Homo sapiens: one gene and its partners. The protein of the gene in region 1 purifies or fractionates together with the protein of each later gene. This does not show direct contact. Each region holds a gene or a part of one and is shown on either strand. Other genes may lie near its edges.

The links. Proteins that work in one complex are often made in the same cells at the same time.
Region 2: the proteins of STYXL1 (region 1) and DDX19A purify together in Homo sapiens (affinity purification with mass spectrometry, with the first as the bait; one large-scale study listed by BioGRID). This does not show direct contact.
Region 3: the proteins of STYXL1 (region 1) and UMPS purify together in Homo sapiens (affinity purification with mass spectrometry, with the first as the bait; one large-scale study listed by BioGRID). This does not show direct contact.
Region 4: the proteins of STYXL1 (region 1) and PGM3 purify together in Homo sapiens (affinity purification with mass spectrometry, with the first as the bait; one large-scale study listed by BioGRID). This does not show direct contact.

What each region holds. Positions count from the first base shown.
Region 1 is NC_000007.14:75,998,712-76,004,047, reverse strand, and holds part of STYXL1 (serine/threonine/tyrosine-interacting-like protein 1), read left to right. Parts: intron 1-192; coding exon 193-290; intron 291-3,045; coding exon 3,046-3,158; intron 3,159-5,336.
Region 2 is NC_000016.10:70,349,895-70,354,330, forward strand, and holds part of DDX19A (ATP-dependent RNA helicase DDX19A), read left to right. Parts: intron 1-662; coding exon 663-711; intron 712-4,436. UniProt on the Homo sapiens protein: ATP-dependent RNA helicase involved in mRNA export from the nucleus.
Region 3 is NC_000003.12:124,740,444-124,744,879, forward strand, and holds part of UMPS (uridine 5'-monophosphate synthase), read left to right. Parts: intron 1-1,708; coding exon 1,709-1,823; intron 1,824-3,471; coding exon 3,472-3,641; 3' UTR 3,642-4,436. UniProt on the Homo sapiens protein: Bifunctional enzyme catalyzing the last two steps of de novo pyrimidine biosynthesis, orotate phosphoribosyltransferase (OPRT), which converts orotate to orotidine-5'-monophosphate (OMP), and orotidine-5'-monophosphate decarboxylase (ODC), the terminal enzymatic reaction that decarboxylates OMP to uridine monophosphate (UMP).
Region 4 is NC_000006.12:83,178,838-83,183,273, forward strand, and holds part of PGM3 (phosphoacetylglucosamine mutase), read right to left. Parts: intron 4,142-4,436; coding exon 4,008-4,141; intron 3,095-4,007; coding exon 2,899-3,094; intron 1,131-2,898; coding exon 973-1,130; intron 1-972. UniProt on the Homo sapiens protein: Catalyzes the conversion of GlcNAc-6-P into GlcNAc-1-P during the synthesis of uridine diphosphate/UDP-GlcNAc, a sugar nucleotide critical to multiple glycosylation pathways including protein N- and O-glycosylation.

The sequences.
Region 1 (5,336 bases):
CTGGGCTTATTCATGAGCCACCACACCCAGCCTGGATGTTTTTTTCCAGGAGAGGTTGAGTTACCTGTGCACATTCCCCCTTACACAAGCTCAGCGTCCTCCCTGTGGCCCTTCTGCTGTGATGAAAACCCCACAATGGGGATGCCTGCATTCTGCATTCCACCTGATGACCTGTGTGGTCCTTCCGTGTAGTTTTGCAGGCGATGCTGACAAGCTTCTGCACATCCGGATAGAAGATTCCCCGGAAGCCCAGATTCTTCCCTTCTTACGCCACATGTGTCACTTCATTGGTAAGGAGCGTTCCTTGGCCGGGTAGCAACTGGCCTGTGTCTGGGAAGCAGAGGGGCAGTGGAGCCTCCTTCACAGGCTTATTCTGGACCGTGATTTCCCCATGCTCTAGAGAGAAAGGGCCCAGCTCGGCATATGCTCCATCTGGGTGGGACAAGCTCCAGGACACGTCCAACTTCTGGGGAGCCCTCAGTGAAACGAGCAACCGTGGTGTTTACCTCGGGGGCAGTGGGGCCCAAGGCTCTGGCCCTGGCTAGATGGCTGTGCCCTTCTGGGCTTGTTGTAAAATGAGAGTGATGGCTACCCACAAGTGCACATGCTCATGGAGGCTCTGGGCTGAGCTCTGGGGACCAGTAGTAAATCTATCTCTCTCCATCCCCGCCTTCATCCTTGGTCTGTGGGATGTCGGTGGAATGGAAGGAAGACTACAAAGCTCTTTCAGTTCTGACTTCCAAGATTTTCTTTGTTTTTGTTTGTTGGTTGGTTGGTGGAGTTGGGGTCTTGCTATGTTGCCTAGGCAGGTCTTGAACTCCTGGCCTCAAGCGATCTTCCTACCTCAGCCTCTCAAGGTGCTGGGATTATAGGCATGAGCCACCACACCCAAGTGATGCCCACCAGTTACTTAACTCATCAAGAGTGGATTTTTTACTCATTCCTGGGGCTCCAGATTGCCAGAGGAGAGTAAGATCTGTAGAGAGAGCAGGGCTGAGTCAGGTCAGAGTCCCCACCCCATGCCTGCCTGTCTGGCACCAACAGCTCCTGGCCTGAGCCACTGTACCAGGGGCTGGAGCATGGCATTTTGGCCCAACCATCCCTTATTTTAAATTTTATTTTTCGAGACGGGGTCTGGCTTGTTCACCCAGGCTGGAGTGTAGTGGCACAATCTTGGCTCACTGCAATCTCTACTTCCTGGGCTCAAGCAATCCTCCTACCTCAGCCTCCCAAGTAGCTGGGACTACAGGCATGCACCACCACGTCCAACTAATTTTTGCATTTTTAGTAAAGATGGGGTTTTGCCATGTTGCCCAAACTGGTCTTGAACTCCTGAGCTCAAGCAATCCACCCACCTCAGCCTCCCAAAGTACTGGGATTACAGGCGTGAGCCACCACACCCAGCCCCAACCATCCTTTATTTGCCCAGTAGATGTCAAATGTTGCTCAACCAGGGCCTGAGGCTGAGACTTCCCATGTGTCCCACCTCGAGATGGCAGAGCCTTGTGGCCCAAGGAGGGACCCCATCTAGCCTGCCTCCCTGGGTAGCACTGAGCCAGTCAATAAATTAAACTGCATGCTCAGTTCCTTTATTCAGATGGTGAGGAAGGTGGCCATCGTCATCTCTGCGTCCTTCTTCAGCCCTGGCAGTCTGTGATTTTGCACTTGGTAGGCTTATCTTCAGTTCCTGAGGGTTGCCAGACCAGCCTCGGGTGCCAGCTTAGATTTCCTCTCCCTGGGCAGGACTCACAGCTTCAGGGGTGCTGTGATTAGAGCTGATATTTCTGTGCCAGGCACTGGGCTCAGCACAGAACAAAACCAAACTGTATGAAGTAGGTAGTATACTGTGATCCCGTTTTCCAGATGAGGACACCGTGGCCTCAAGTAACTTACCCTCCAGCCCGGGCAACATTGTGAGACCCCATCTGTACAAAAAAGTTAGCTGGATATGGTGGCACATGCCTGTGGTCCCAGCTACTCAGAAGGCTAAGGCGGAGGGTTACTTGAGCCCAGGAGTTCAAGGTTGCAGTGAGCTGTGATTACACCACTGCGTTCCAGCCTGGGCAACAGAGCAAGACCCAGTCTCTAAAATAAAATAAATAAAAATAGGCTGGGCACAGTGGTTCTTACCTGTCATTCCAGTACTTTGAGAAGCCAAGGTGGGCAGATCACCCGAGGTCAGGAGTTCAAGACCAGCCTGAACAACATAGTGAGACTGCATGTCTATATTGAAAAAAAAAAAAAAAAAAAAAAAATCAGGCGCAGTGGCTCATGCCTATAATCCCAGCACTTTGGGAGGCCAAGGCAGGCAGATCACCTGAGGTCTGGAGTTGGAGACCAGCCTGGCCAACATGGTGAAACCCCATCTCTATTAAAAATACAAAAAATTAGCTGGGCGTGGTGGCAGGTGCTTGTAATCCCAGGTACTCGGGAGGTTAAGCCAGGAGAATCACTTGAACCCAGGAGGCAGAGGTTGCAGTGAACTGAGATTGTGCCACTGCACTCCAGCCTGGGCAACAAGAGTGAAACTCTGTCTCAACAAAGAAAGAAGGAAAGGAGAGAGAGGAGTAGAGAGGAGAAGAAAGGGGAAAGAAGAGAGGAGATGGGGGAAGGAAAGGAAAGGAAGTAACTTGCCCAAGCCCCACGGCCAGTGAGTGGCAGTCAGGATTGGCACTCAGGCTACACTGGCTCTGTCAGCTCCTGACTGTTTTTGGGATGACGATGGTCCTGTCCGCCCCATACTGGGAGGCCAGTTGGTAGCAGAGCTTCCTGGGCTAGAAACCTGGAGTTCAGGAGAAGGTCTTTGCCTGGTGATGCTGGTTGCCCAGGCATGATTCTCTGGAACTTCCAGCCAGGTCTGAGGGATGCCCACTTGCTAGACAATGAAATGGGCTCCCAGAGAAATCATGGGACTTGCCGAGGTCACGTGGGCTGGTTTTGAACTCATGCTTGGACCACGGGCCCATGGAGGCCAGTGTCTGACAGCAACCCAGGCCCACAGGGAGGAGGGCCAGGCATGACCCAACCCCCCACTTCTTTTTGCAGAAATTCACCATCACCTTGGCTCTGTCATTCTGATCTTTTCCACCCAAGGTATCAGCCGCAGTTGTGCCGCCATCATAGCCTACCTCATGCATAGTAACGAGCAGACCTTGCAGGTATGCGTTCCCCGGGCCAGGCTCGCACCACGGCCACCCCCTGGGAGGTGAGGTCAGAGCGCAACCTGGGAGGAGTGGGGCCCCAGCACTGCTTTGGGAGGAAGAATCCCAGATAACTCCAAGTCTAGGGTGCTCCCCAGTCCGCGTCACCCAAGGGCAAGGCCCCAGTGTTGCATGCTTGAGGCCTGAGGCTGGATATGCAGGGCTGGCCCAGGGACTCAGGCCAGGTCAGGCTGTCCTGCAGCCCCCACTGCTGTCAGGCCGTCCACCTGTGTTTGTTTGGTGTTGCCCAAGGGAGAACTGCTTGGAGTCCCAGAGCTGCAGCACAGGCGCCCACCCACTCCCGTCTATCTCCCTGTACCTTGGGCGCAGGGTCCAGAGAAGAGAGGGAAGCAGGGACCCATCGCAGCAAACCCAGGCGGAACTCGGAGCTCCTAACTCACAGCACCTTTCTCGAGGGCCTGCCCTGCCTGTCACAGCCTGTTCGTGATCCCCAGAGGGCTTGATAGGACCTACAAAGCCCCAACATTTGCCCAGGGATGTTTTTGGGGGAAGGAGAGGGACAAAGAATAAAACTCGTTGGCCAGTGGCTTCGGTTGTTGCCCCCATGTGCACTTTGGGGGTGAAGTTGTAGGCTAGAAAGTCCTTTTTTTTTTTTTTTTTTTTTTTTTGAGATGGAGTCTTGTTCTGTTGCCCAGGCTGGAGTGCAGTGGTGCAATCTCCACCTCCTGGGTTCAAGCGATTCTTGAACCTCCACTGCACCCTCTGCCTCCTGGGTTCAAGCGATTCTCCTGTCTCTGCCTCCCGCGTAGCTGGGATTACAGGTCCGTGTCACCATGCCCGGCTAATTTTTGTATTTTTAGTAGAGACAGGGTTTCACCATCTTGGCCAGGCGATGTGTGGGGTGGTGGTGGGGGATGGGTGGTTTACGATTCTTCCTCCAGGGCCTGTTCTGACCCAGCGAGGACATAGTAAGCCTTTTGACTGCACAGCTCTGCCCCTCACACCACTTTAAAAAAAATTGTGGTTAAAATATACATAACAGGCCGGGCGCGGTGGCTCACGCCTGTAATCCCAGCATTGTGGGAGGCCGAGGCGGGCAGATCACCTGAGGTCAGGAGTTCAAGACCAGCCTGGCCAACATAGTGAAACCCCCTCTACTAAAAATACAAAAATTAGCTGGGCGTGGTGGTGCGTGCCTGTAATCCCAGCTACTCTGGAGGCTGAGGCAGGAGAATCGCTAGAAGCTGGGAGGCAGAGGCAGCAGTGAGCTGAGATTGCACCATTGTACTCCAGCCTGGGTGACAAGAGCGAAACTCTGTCTCAAAAAAAAATATACACACACACACACACACACACACACACACACACACACACATACACACACACACACACACAACAAAAAAATTACCATCTTAACTATTTTAAAATGTATAGCTTAGGAGCATTAAGTACATTCACATTATTGTACAACTAATCTCCCAAACTTTTCCATCTTGCAAACCTGAAACAGCAACTCTTTACTTTCCCCTCTTCATCGCCCCGTGGGAACCACCATTCTACTTTTTGTCTCTGTGAATTTGACTACTCTAGGTACCTTATATAAGTTCCTTCCTTTTAAGGCTGAATAATATTCCATTATATGTGTGGAATTCACCAATAAACCCATCTAGGCTGGGTGCTTTCTGTTTTGGAAGGTTACTAATTATTGATTCAATTTATTATTGTTATTTTATTTATTTATTTTTTTTTGAGACGGAGTCTCGCTCTGTCACCCAGGCTGGAGTACAGTAGCACAATCTCGACTCACTGCAAGCTCTGCCTCCCGGGCTCATGCCATTCTTCTGCCTCAGCCTCCCGAGTAACTGGGACTACAGGCATCTGCCACCACTCAATTTCTTTAATATATGTAGGCCTATTCAGATTGTCTGTTTCTTCTTGTGTGAGTTTTGGCAGTCTGTGTCTTTCAAGGAATTGATCAATCACATTTGTGGATATGAATATTCTTCTATTATCCTTTTAATGTCTGTGGGATCTGTAGCAATGTCTTCTCTTTCACTTCTGTATTAGTAATTTGTGTCTTCTGTTTAAGTTAGCCTGGCTAGCGGTGTATCGATTTTATTGATCTTTTCAAAGAACCGGCTTTTGGTTTTTTTGATTTTCTCTATTGATTTCCTG
Region 2 (4,436 bases), on another chromosome or scaffold:
GAAGACCTTTTTTTTCACCATGTAGACTTGTGTACCTTCACTTAATAAATGATTCATGGTCTTAGGTTATCATGTGGTTCTGCTCTCTAGTGTAGAGATAACCAATGAAAGTGACAGAAGGCTGGGTGCAGTGACTCACACCTGTAATCCCAGTGCTTTGGGAGGCCAAGGTGGGAGGATTGCTTGAGCCCAGGAGTTCGAGTTTGAGTTCAAGTAGGCATGGTGGTCCACACCTGTGTTCCCAGCTACTAGGGAGGCTGAGGTGGGAGGATCGCTAGAACCCAGGAGGTTGAGGCCGCAGTGAGCCATGATCGTGCTGCTGTACTCCAGCCTAGGTGACAGAGTGAGACCTTGTCTCAGAAAATAAATAAATAGAAAGAACTTGAGTTGGGAGATGAGCAGAGGTTGAGGTTTTCTGAAACTTTCCCCCCAACCATTATATTTAGTCCACCCCTCCCCTTGTTTTAAGGCTGTTGAAGATATTTGAAATGATGGTTTCACACAGACTTTCAGCAACTCTACTTTGAGGGAACAAACCGACTCCCTGAATACTGGTGCTGAAAGTTTCACACTAGACTTTTACTAGAAAGTTTTTCTTTTCTTAGGGACCTTCCTTTTATTGGGTCCTTTGCTTAACTCTGTTTTCTTTTATTTCTATTCAGATGACCAATTTGCAGATCAAGGAAGAGAAAGTCAAAGCAGATACCAATGGTGAGTCACTAGTAACTACAAGCTAGAAAAGAGTTCCATGTGGGCCGCTGCTTTGCACTCATAGCTGCATTGTACAAAGAGCTGTCATTTCGTGTAAACTTCAGCTGTTTACAAGCCAGTGAATTAGATTTTGTTACTGAAGGGATATGTCGATTTTCCACATTTTATCCTTTGACTTCTTAAAATTAAGAGTCTCTCTATTGGATTGTACTGCTACTGTTCATTTGATAATATTTTGGCAAATTATTTATTTATTTATTTATTTATTTATTTATTTATTTATTTATTTTGAGACGGAGTCTCGCTCTGTCGCCCAGGCTGGAGTGCAGTGGCACAATCTTGGCTCACTGCAAGCTCTGCCTCCTGGGTTCATAACCATTCTCCTGCCTCAGCCTCCCGAGTAGCTGGGACTACAGGCGCTTGCCACCACGCGCTAGTTTTTTTTTTTTTGTATTTTTAGTAGAGATAGGGTTTCGCCGTGTTAGCCAGGATGGTCTTGATCTCCTGTCCTCGTGATCCACCCACCTCAGCCTCCCAAAGTGCTGGGATTACAGGTGTGAGCCACTGTGCCCGGCCTAAATTTTTTATTTTTTATATTAGATTTTTAAAATTTTATTTGAGACAGGGTCTCACTCTGTCGTGCAGGCTAGAGTGGAGTGGCGTGATCTTGGCTCACTGCAACCTCTGCCACCCAGGCTCAAGAGATCCTCCCACCTCAGCCTCCCAGGTAGCTGAGACTACAGGCATCCACCACCACACCTGGCTAATTTTTTATATTTTTAGTAGAGGCGGGGCTTTGTCATATTGCCCAGGCTGGTCTTGACCTCCTGAGCTCAAGCGATCTGCCTGCCTCAGCCTCCCACAGTGCTGGGATTACAGGCATGAGTCACTGCACTTGGCCTAATTTTATTATTTATTTATTTATTTTTATTTTTTTTTGAGACAGTCTCACTCTGCCACGCAGGCCGGAGTGCAGTGGTGTGATCTCGGCTTACTGCAAGCTCCGCCTCCCAGGTTCACGCCATTCTTGTGCCTCAGCCTCCCAAGTAGCTGGGACTACAGGCGCCCGCCACCATGCCCAGCTAATTTTTTTTTTGTATTTTTAGTAGAGATAGGGTTTCACCGTGTTAGCCAGGATGGTCTCGATGTCCTGACCTCGTGATCCACCCCGCTTGGCCTCCCAAAGTGCTGGGATTACAGGTGTGAGCCACCACGCCCGGCCAATTTTATTTTATTTTTTTAAATAAAATCCAGATCCTGCATGAGGTAAATTTTTTAACTTTTTGAAAAGTGAATCTGGGTTCAAAACTCAGAAAGTATAATAAAGTACAAGGATTAGGGCCCACCCTAGTGACCTCATCTTAACTACAGCTGTAGCAACCCTATTTCAAAATAAGGTCACATTCTGAGGTACTGGTTAGGACTTGAATATATGAGTTTGAGGTCAGCGGGCCACACACAATTCAGCTCATAACACCATCCTATCCCATAAGTAGCCACTGTTCATGGATTTTTAATATTCTTCCAAAGACTTTATGCAAAGCAAATATAAGTGTAGATTCTCATATTCTCTCTCTCAACCAAAACGTGGCGTGATATATACAGTATACTTACTTTTTCACTCAACAGTATCCCTTGGCAAACTTTCCATATCAATACATGCAGTTTCATCCATGTCTTTTTTTTTTTTTTTTTTTGAGGCAGAGTCTTTCTCTGTCACCCAGGCTGGAGTGCAGTGGTGCAATCTTGGCTCACTCCAACCTCCGCCTCCCGGGTTCAAGCGATTCTCCTGCCTCGGCTTCCTGAATAGCTGGGATTACAGGTGTCCGCCATCATGCCCAGCTAATTTTTGTATTTTTAGTGGAGACGGGGTTTCACCATGTTGGCCAGGTTGGTCTTGAACTCCTGACCTGATGATCTGCCCGCCTCGGCCTCCCAAAGTGCTGGGATTACAGGCGTGAGCCACTGTGCCTGGCCCTTCCTTGTGTTTTATAATTATGTGATACTGCATTGTGTCGATCTACCACGATTTTTTTTTTTTTTTTTTTTTGAGATGAAGTTTCACTCGTTGCCCAGGCTGGAGTGCAATGATGTGATCTCGGCTCACCGCAACCTCCACCTCCGGGGTTCAAGCGATTCTCCTGCTTCAGCCTTCCAAGTAGCTGGGATTATAGGCATGTGCCACCACGCCTGGCTAATTTTGTGTTTTTTTAGTAGAGATGGGGTTTCTCCATCTTGGTCAGGCTGGTCTCGAACTCCTGACCTCAGGTGATCCGCCCACCTCAGCCTCCCAAAGTGCTGGGATTACAGGCTTGAGCCACCGCATCTGGCTGATATACCATGATTTTTAAAGCAATCATAGATGTTTGGGTGGTCCCATTCTTTTGCTATTATAAATAATGCTTCATGAAATAACCATGAACTTAGCTCTTTTTACATGTATGCAAGTGTCTGTAGGATAAATTCCCCAAAAATGGATTTGCTAGGTCAAAGGTATATGCATTTGCGATTTTTTCTTTCTTTCTTTTTTTTTTTCTTTGAGATGGATTCTCTGTTGCCCAGGCTGGAGTACAGTGGGGGCTCACTGCCACCTCTGCCTGCCAGGTTCAAGCAATTCTTCTGTCTCTGCATCCCGAGTAGCTGGGATTACAGGTGCCTGCCTTGCATGCCCAGCTAATTTTTTGTATTTAGTAGAGACAGGGTTTCACCGTATTACCCAGACTGCTCTTGAACTTCTGAGCTCAGGCAATCCGCTCGCTTGGCCTCGCAAAGTGCTAGGATTACAGGCACGAGCCACCACGCCTGGCCTTTTTTTAAAATTTTTTTTAAGACGTGATCTTGTAGGTTGGACACAGTGGCTCATGCCTGTAATCCCAGCACTTTGGGAGGCCGAGGCGGGCAGATCATGAGGTCAGCCCTATCAGATTGGCAAATTCTAAAAGTTTGACTATTAATTCTGTGATGAGATTGTAGGGAAACACTCTCATTCTTGCTGATGGAAATATTAATTGGTGGCCGGGCACAGCGGCTCATGCTTGTAATTCCAGCACTTTGGGAGGCTGAGGCGGGTGGATCACCTGAGGTCGGGAGTTTGAGACCAGCCTGGCCAATATGGTGAAACCCTGTCTCTACTAAAAATACAAAAATTGCCCGGGCATGGTGGTGCATGCCTGTAGTCCCAGCTACTCGGGAGGCTGAGGCAGAGGAATCACTTGAACCTGGGGGGCAAAGGTTGCAGTGAGCCGAGATCGTGCCACTGCACTTCATCCTGGGCAACAGAGTGAGACTCTGTCTCAAAAAAAAAAAAAAAAAACACAGGCTCTTGCTCTGTCACCCAGGCTGCAGTGCAGTGGCTCAAACTCCTGGGCTCAAGCTGTTCTCCTGCCTCAGCCTCCTGAATAGCTGGGATTATAGGCTAATTTTTTAAATTTTTAGTAGAGACTAGGTCTTGCTATGTTGCCCAGGCTGACATTTGCAATTTTTGTCAGTATTTTCAAAGTCTTTTCCTTAGGTATTATACCAATTAATATTTCTGGGGTTTTTTTTTTTCTTTTTTTGAGACGGAGCTTTGCTCTTGTTGCCCAGGCTGGAGTGCAATGGCGTAATCTCAGCTCACTGCAACCTCCGCCTCCCAGGTTCAAGCGATTCTCCTGCCTCAGCCTTCCCGAATAGCTGGGATTACAGGCATGCGCCACCACACCCAGCTAATTTTGTATTTTTTAGTA
Region 3 (4,436 bases), on another chromosome or scaffold:
TTAGTCAAACAAACACTTACTAAATCTACCAGGACTTTAAGATAATGTCTTTTTCATCTTACCATGAATTGAGAGAAGATGAGAAGAGCTTCCCAGACATGCAGTTTCTCAGAATCTCCCAAGTCCTACAGAGATGCACATTCCCATGACAGCAGCCCACATGCAGTGGCTTTCTCTTATTCTTGTCAGATATTTTAGAATATAATATTACTTTAAAAAAATTGCCATAGGGGGCTGGGCGCAGTTGCTCACACCTGTAATCCTAGCACTTTGGGAGGCCAAGGCGGGAGGATTGCTTGAGGCCAGGAGTTGGACGTCATAGTGAGATCTCGTCTCTACAAAAAAATGAAAAAGAAAATAACCAGGCATGGTGGTACGTGCCTATAGTCCCAGCTGCTTGGGAGGCTGAGGTGGGAGGATCGCTTGAGCTTGAAGTTCAAGGCTGCAGGGAGCCATGATCATGCCACTTTACCTCAGCCTGGGCAAGAGTAAGAGCCTGTCAAAAAAAATTAAAAATAAAAAGCCCCAAGAAAATCCCCATGATTTTTTTAAAAATGAAATCCCCAAGACAATCCCCATGTGAAGATTCTAGAAGTAAAGGATTTCCATTTTTTCATATTATTTCAGACTATTTGGAGACTTAACTCATATGGCCCTACAGTCAGGTTTTAACCCTATCCCTGAATTGACTATAACTGTCTGATTTCCCAAGTCTCAAAATCACAGGGGCCATGAGTCAGTTTTAATATTTGGCATTCTGGGAGTCTGGGTCTGGCTCAAGGACAAGACATGACTTGTTTGTTGGCAGTAGTACTTGGTGGCAAGAATGAATGTATCAATGTGTGTCTCAGGTCTCGAAGTACCGAGGCTGGAGTGCAGTGGTGGTACTGAGTCTGGTCTCCGGGAAGTATCAAATAAGAAGGGAAGTATGGGAGTCACGTCTCGGGGAAAGTACCTACCGAATCAGAAAGCCAGGCAGACCTTCTAAAGAGACTTTTATGAATGTGAGATAATAGTATAGAAATTGGGGAGACCAGTTGATGTTACAGAAGAGGGAAAGTGGTAGAGGTGAGATTTCTTTAGCTCTTGAAAGCGTAGCTGTTCTTTACATGACAGCTGCCTTTGGATATGGAGTACCCCGTCTGTAGATAGTCAGTAAGCCTTGAATGTGGTTTCATACCATTATAATATGTTCTAGAGTACTCGCCTCAAATCCTTTTTGGAAGTAGGTGGGTCACCAAGCATTATTAGAAATAAGAAATTATGCAGCATCTTGATTTTAGATGCATATAGTATAGGATTTCTGCTTTACGTATGGTTTATTGCGGGAAGGGAAGGGAAAGGGTCATCTCAGAGTCTTAATGAAGCAGATGTGTTTTATTATGGTTTCTATCTAAGATGACCTGTTTCAGATATAGTAACTTTATATATATGGAATGAGAAAAGGCATCTATAATACAGCAAAGTTTCTAACTAGATAATAGAGCATAAGCCAGGCATGGTGACTTACAACTGTAACCCCAGCACTTTGGGAGGCCAAGGTAGGAGGATCCCTTGAGCCCAGGGGTTCAAGACCAGCCAGGGAACATAGGGAGACCTCATGTCTTTTTTTTTTTTTTTTAAGTTTTGAAAAAATAGAGCATATTTTTACTTTTATTCTGTGTGATTAACTGTTTTCTTATAATATGTCCTATTACATTCCATTTAGGTTAGAATGGCTGAGGAGCACTCTGAATTTGTTGTTGGTTTTATTTCTGGCTCCCGAGTAAGCATGAAACCAGAATTTCTTCACTTGACTCCAGGAGTTCAGTTGGAAGCAGGAGGTAAATCTGGTCACTGGTCGTGGCTCTTCCAAAAATGCTTCTTTACCCATGGCAGGCAAAATAAAACTTTGCATATTATTATACACTTGCTTAAGAAAAGCCTTCTTAGTCTAGAACAATAATGAATGAGCCCTTTGGTAACTATGTATCTTTGGACAAGTCAGTTTACTTCTTTTAGTCTAATTGTCTGTAAAATGGGGATGATAACAGTATTGACCTCATAAGGTAATCAAGATGCTTTAATGAGATAACATGTAGAATATTTAACACAATGTCTTGGCACAGAGTAAACACTCTGTACTTATAAGCCCTTATTCGTAAGCCCTAATAATTGTTTGACTAGATATTATAGTTAGGGTCTAGGCTTTTAAGAATACTTAAAGTATCTTGGATTTGGAAGATAATAAGCCATTTAACAGAATGCTTCTGAAACAGCGGAATTTAATAAAAAAGCAAAATTTAAGGATTCGGGTTTATGGATAGTCTGTGTGACCACTTGATGGGGTTCTTGTATATGGTAGTGGTCAGGTTAGACTTGCTCAGCAGTGCCTTGTGGTGATTCTAAGATGTGTGCTAAAATTTTCTTCAATTGTGAGGCCAATCTTTATTGTATTTTTTTGATATTGAACCTTTCTTTGCAACATATGAGTTTTACTTCTTTTTTTAATATATTGTTAAGCTACAGATGATCTAAAATTTGACATTGAGGGGGTGAATATTTAGGGCAACTTGAATTTATGCTTCTGGAAAAAAATTACATGAAAAAATAATGATAAAATAAATAAGGCTGGGTGCGGGGGCTCACGCTCGTAATCCCAGCACTTTGTGAGGCCGAGGTGGGCAGATCACCTGAGGTCAGGAGTTCAAGACCAGCTTGGCCGACATGGTGAAACCCTGTCTCTACTCAAAATACAAAAATTAGCCGGGCGTGGTGGTGCACGCTTTTAATCCCAGCTACTCGGGAGGCTGAGGCAGGAGAATCGCTTGAATCCGGGAGGCGGGGGTTGCAGCGAGCTGAGATTGTGCCATTGCACTCCAGCCTGGGTGACAGAGCAAGACTCTGTCTCAAAAAAATAAATAAATAAATAGGGCGGGGCGCAGTAGCTCATGCCTGTAATCCCAGCACTTTGGGAGGCTGAGGCGGGCGGATCATGAGGTCAGGAGATCGAGACCATCCTGGCTAACACGGTGAAACTCCATCTCTACTAAAAAATACAAAAAATTAGCCAGGCGTGGTGGCAGGCGCCTGTAGTCCCAGCTACTCGGGAGGCTGAGGCAGGAGAATGGCATGAACCTGGGAGGCAGAGCTTGCAGTGAGCCGAGATAGCACCACTGCACTCCAGCCTGGGTGACAGAGCGAGACTCCGTCTCAAAAAAATAAATAAATAAAAATAAATAAATAAATAAATAAATAAAATAAACTTTACCATTGAAAAGGAGTTGGTGATCATCTTTCTCCATTTGACGTCTCTGGCCTACCCAGTGAGTCTCTTCAGCTCCTGTTTTTACGCAGTTGCTGTACAAAAGGGGAACGAAAGTAGGGGCATGTTTTTATTTAAAGCTGGTTAGATACTTTTTCAGAGAAGTCATGTGACAGGTTTTCTGATTTTTGTATTATGTGAAACAACAATTTTTGTGTTTCTTGCAGGAGATAATCTTGGCCAACAGTACAATAGCCCACAAGAAGTTATTGGCAAACGAGGTTCCGATATCATCATTGTAGGTCGTGGCATAATCTCAGCAGCTGATCGTCTGGAAGCAGCAGAGATGTACAGAAAAGCTGCTTGGGAAGCGTATTTGAGTAGACTTGGTGTTTGAGTGCTTCAGATACATTTTTCAGATACAATGTGAAGACATTGAAGATATGTGGTCCTCCTGAAAGTCACTGGCTGGAAATAATCCAATTATTCCTGCTTGGATTCTTCCACAGGGCCTGTGTAAGAATGGGTTCTGGAGTTCTCATGGTCTTTAGGAAATATTGAGTAATTTGTAATCACCGCATTGATACTATAATAAGTTCATTCTTAAGCTTGCTTTTTTTGAGACTGGTGTTTGTTAGACAGCCACAGTCCTGTCTGGGTTAGGGTCTTCCACATTTGAGGATCCTTCCTATCTCTCCATGGGACTAGACTGCTTTGTTATTCTATTTATTTTTTAATTTTTTTCGAGACAGGATCTCACTCTGTTGCCCAGGATGGAGTGCAGTGGTGAGATCACGGCTCATTGCAGCCTCGACCTCCCAGGTGATCCTCCCACCTCAGCTTCCAGATTAGCTGGTGCTATAGGCATGCACCACCACGTCCATCTAAATTTCTTTATTATTTGTAGAGATGAGGTCTTGCCATGTTACCCAGGCTGGTCTCAACTCCTGGGCTCAAGCGATCCTCCTGCCTCAGTCTCTCAAAGTGCTGGGATTACAGGTGTGAGCCACTGTGCCCAGCCTAATTGCAGTAAGACAAAAATTCTAGGGCACCAAGAGGCTAAAGTCAGCACAGCTTTTCTTGTGTCCTGTATTCTCTGTCTAATGTGTTGCCCAAATAATACCTAATTGTTAGCCATTCCCCTCCATCTCTGGCCTAAAAGTGATAGTCCAGGTATCCACATGGGCTGGTT
Region 4 (4,436 bases), on another chromosome or scaffold:
CAAAATTATCAGCCAGTTCAGTTGTGCCTTAGTTTATGCCAAAAATGTCTGACTGAAAATTTACATGTATGCCAGGAAAAAAGCCTAAAATACATTTGAACACTATTTAAAACAATTCTATGAGAATTCCTCTTTTAAGAAGCCTGTATCTCCTGATCTTCACCTCTTTAATTTTTTAAATAAAAGTATCTGGCCAGGCACGGTGGCTCACGCCTGTAATCCCAGCACTCTGGGAGGCCAAGGTGGGTGGATCACCTGAGGTCAAAAGTTCGAGACCAGCCTGGCCAACATGGTGAAACCCCATCTCTACTAAAAGTACAAAAATTAGCCAGGTGTGGTGGCATGCATCTGTAATCCCAGCTACTTGGGAGGCTGAGGCAGAAGAATTGCTTGAGCCCAGGGAGGCAGAGGTTGCAATGAGCCGAGATCACGCCCCTGCACTCCAGCCTGGGCAACAGAGCAACACTGTCTCAAAAAAAAAAAAAAAAAAAATCTATTAAATTCTTAAAGTATGCTGTTTCCAGATTATAATAATTTCCAATTACATTGTGTACTTAAAGCTAGCCTGAGATTTATTTCTAAAATAGCAAAATGAAACAAATCTCACATTACTAAGCTTATCATAATCAGTTAATATATCAGATGATGAGATTTCCTATTAGAATTTAGGGCTTTTATGGAGTGACCACAGAACTGTCATCAAAGTTTCAATTATGATGGAAGCAAAACTTCCTAAAGCTTCAAATCACAAAACTCAGCCAGTATAAGGAGGAAAAGAGTACCTTCAGGTTCCAAAGCCAATGCCTCAAATGTTCAAATGACTGGGTATTACCACTGCTCTTTTTTTAATTTTCTGCCCACTAATGTAAAGAATTTGTCATAAATTGTGCCCTTCTGACAAATGATTGTAAAATATGGAACTATTTCACTACTAAGTCTTGTTTTAGAGGGTAGCCAATCCCCCCACCATACCTCCACCAGGAGCTCTTTAAGGAAACTGCTAATTAACGTTGCTATCTTGTCTCCATCTATGAGATGAAAGTGGCCATCTGCATCATGGTAGTAATAAACAATTCTGTCTGCATCTCCATCAAAAGAACAGCATCTTTCATTGGACTTAATTTCCATTCCTAGCACACAGGATAATTTAACATGCATTTCAGTCTAAGAATTTATTATAAAGAGTTTTAGAATTTTCTCTTAAAATTATCCACCTAAAAATCAATGTCTTAATCTTAAATAGTGTATAATCTTTAAATAGTACATAGTTTATTAGTGGTTTTTACAGGTCAAATTCTTTCACTGCAAAGTGAAAAAAGGAGCATTCAAAATCTATGCTGATATTTGCTATAATACTACCATAAAATTCCACTTTATAAGCAGGTTGGTTTGGCTAGACAGGTGTCCCATAAAGGTTTTTTGAAAGCTACATGTATTTCTGAATGTAATTTACCTAGGACCGTGATCTCCTTTACATAGAAAAAATAATCAGCACTAGATGATGTATGTGCTTTAATTCTAACAGAAATGATTTTTATTTGTTCATACCACCAATAAAAAGAAACACTGATAATTAAGAGCAAAGAATTATAACTTTGAGAGATAACTGGCCTGTGAAATTTACATAAAGTTGCTGAAATCTCAGCAATTGTCACATCAAATTTATTAGAAAATTTGGCTATTCCTTAGCCATGACAGCAGCAGAGTGACAAATTCAACATGAGACAACTAAGAAGTAAAAGGCTTTTGTCAGGAATGGGATCATAAGATTGATGAAAGGACATGATGCAAGCTTCAGGAAAGCAAGGACTATGGTTTTGTTCATACTGTAGTCCCAAAGCCTAGAGCATAGAGAGTAAGAGCTCAGTATTTAAGAAATGGATAAATAAGTGGCAGAACTGAACTGTCAAGTAAATGTCAAAACAAGCAATTCAATGAAAAGGAGCTCAAATTGGTTGACTACACTGACATTTTAAATGCTTACTAAGTAAAGCATAATAACATGAATGAATGAGGCAACTGGATGAAGTCTGTAGAGTTCCAGAATGCATGTCCTATTTTAGGGGAGCAGCATCTATCTGACTGTAGTGGACTAATGCCATGTGTGAACATTTTCTGATTTTGGTAAAGAGATGCTAGAGATTCCAATATATAAGAGAAGTCACGGAATTTTTAAACAGTGGCACACAGACAAACACACAAATGCAGCCAGCCAAACAAAACATATCTGCAAGTCAGGTTTGGCCTAAGCAAATAATTTAGGGTCTATAATGCAGATAAATCCAGAACACCTCTTACTACAACTAAAATCTGAAGAAAAGTCTTCCTCCTATTCTGCACTGAGTGGAAAACACTGATTGCTAACAACTGTATAAGCAGAGTTACATTTGCTTTCCATAGTGTATTTAATTCAGATAAGGTATCTAATAATACTTACTATGCTCCCCTGTAGATCTGTGATTCTCAAAAAGGGATCCCCAGACAAGCACTGGGAACAAAGCCTGCAAACTTGATAGAAATGCAAATTTCTATCATATGCAAATCCTATGCCAGACCTCCAGAAACTCAGAAGTGGAGCCCAGGAATCTGTGTGCTAACAAGCCCTCAAAGTGATTCTGACACATGCCAGTTTGAGAACCACTGCTCTAGAATGCCATTTCCTGACTTTGCTTTCCCCACCTGATTTCCTGTAGACTATGAGGAATGGTGTGATTTACAGGCAGAGAGAGCAGACCATGTTTCAATGGCTCTGAGAGTGGGAAGACTTCTCAATGTCTAAATGTGGCAGAGCCAGGAATAGCTGCAAGATTCTTAACTCACTTTACCACCTTAGTTTATAAGTGAGATTGGCTTCAAAGAGCATTAAAAACAAATTTTTGCAGTGCTAGTACGACATACCCTGTGGAGGTTTCTGATGACTTTTCACAAAGTCAGCTCCACATAAATGATTGAGTTTGCCCTTGGACCCATCATTAAACAGCTGAACTGACAGGCCCTGTGAGAAGTAGTGTTCCATTTCCCTTAGCTTCAGGGCCCCTATGCCATTTGCACAGTCAACCTTAAGTGATCTGTATTCATCTCCACTGCAAGAAGCCTACAAAGGAAAAAGACACATGGAAGAAAAATTTCAAGTTATAAAAATAAATGTGAAATATAAAGCATATATACATATGTGCATATGTAAATATTTAGTTAACTCATTTTAATTTTTAAATTTTATCAATTATAATTGTGTTCATTTTTCAATTTTTAAAATTATAAAACACTAAAGTAAAATTTAAAAACACCTGGAACAACAGAATAGTTTTGCTGATTGAACAACTTATAGCATAGAGCTTTATTAGAATTTAGTCTCAATTAACAGGGTCTCTTAAAAGTAATATTACAAGGGAGCCATTCAAATGCAAGAATAAGCACACAGACAAATGGGCAGTAATGACATGTCATTCTTTTTATAGTATGTGACATCATCATCAGGCAGATTTGTTTTTTTTCTAATTGTCTCCTCTCCCAGCTATCCTCACCCCAAATTATAAGTTCTATGAGAGCAAGGGCTTTTAGTTAATTGTGCCTGGTAAGGACATATACTCAATATTTGTTGATCAAACGAATTATACTTCTCAAATCTCTCTACATTTAACAAGCCAATATACCTAGAAGAAAATCTCAATAGTACATGCCTCAGGTATTAAGCCAACAGCACCTACATTAACTAAGATCAAATTCATCTGAATGAATACTTATGATACCATCGTCAAGACCCCCACCATGTTTGCTTCCCCAAAGTATCTCAGAATGTACTACATAATTTGCCAAGTAAACGCCAATGTAAGTTAGCAGGATACATAGACCAGAACCTTGTGTAGCCCTAGAGAAAAACAAAAAAGGAGATATGCAGCATCTTTGGAAAAGGAAAGAGGAGGCATGACAAACAAGATAATTTGTTCAGTAGACCATGTTACTTTATTCATTTGTTTAACTTTAACCATGTTCAATAAACTTTTCACCTGTTTGGTGAGTTCCACAAAAGCCTTAGAGAGTTTCTGGTAGTAACCTTCTATAGTTGCCTTTCCATATCGGCCACCCGTGTTTCGACAATACACCATGTAGTGCAGCTGGGGTGTTGTTAACAAGCCATAATCTGTCATAGAAATACAAAAAGCAATTCACCGCATTTCTTAACAAAGAGAAAAAAGTTTAAATGCATTCATGTGTAGGAATTTCAGGGTGACAAATCCTTTTGTGTCATCTCAGACATCTTAGAAAACATAAAAATGATCTTAAAAAGAAATATAAATGACTATAAGAAGCCAAAAAACCAATCATTACATATAAACAGGTAACAATGTAAATATAAAGCAATACAGACAAGTAATAATTGAGTTCTGTTTCCAGTAACATTGCAAACTACATAATTCAGATGAATCATCCTCCTG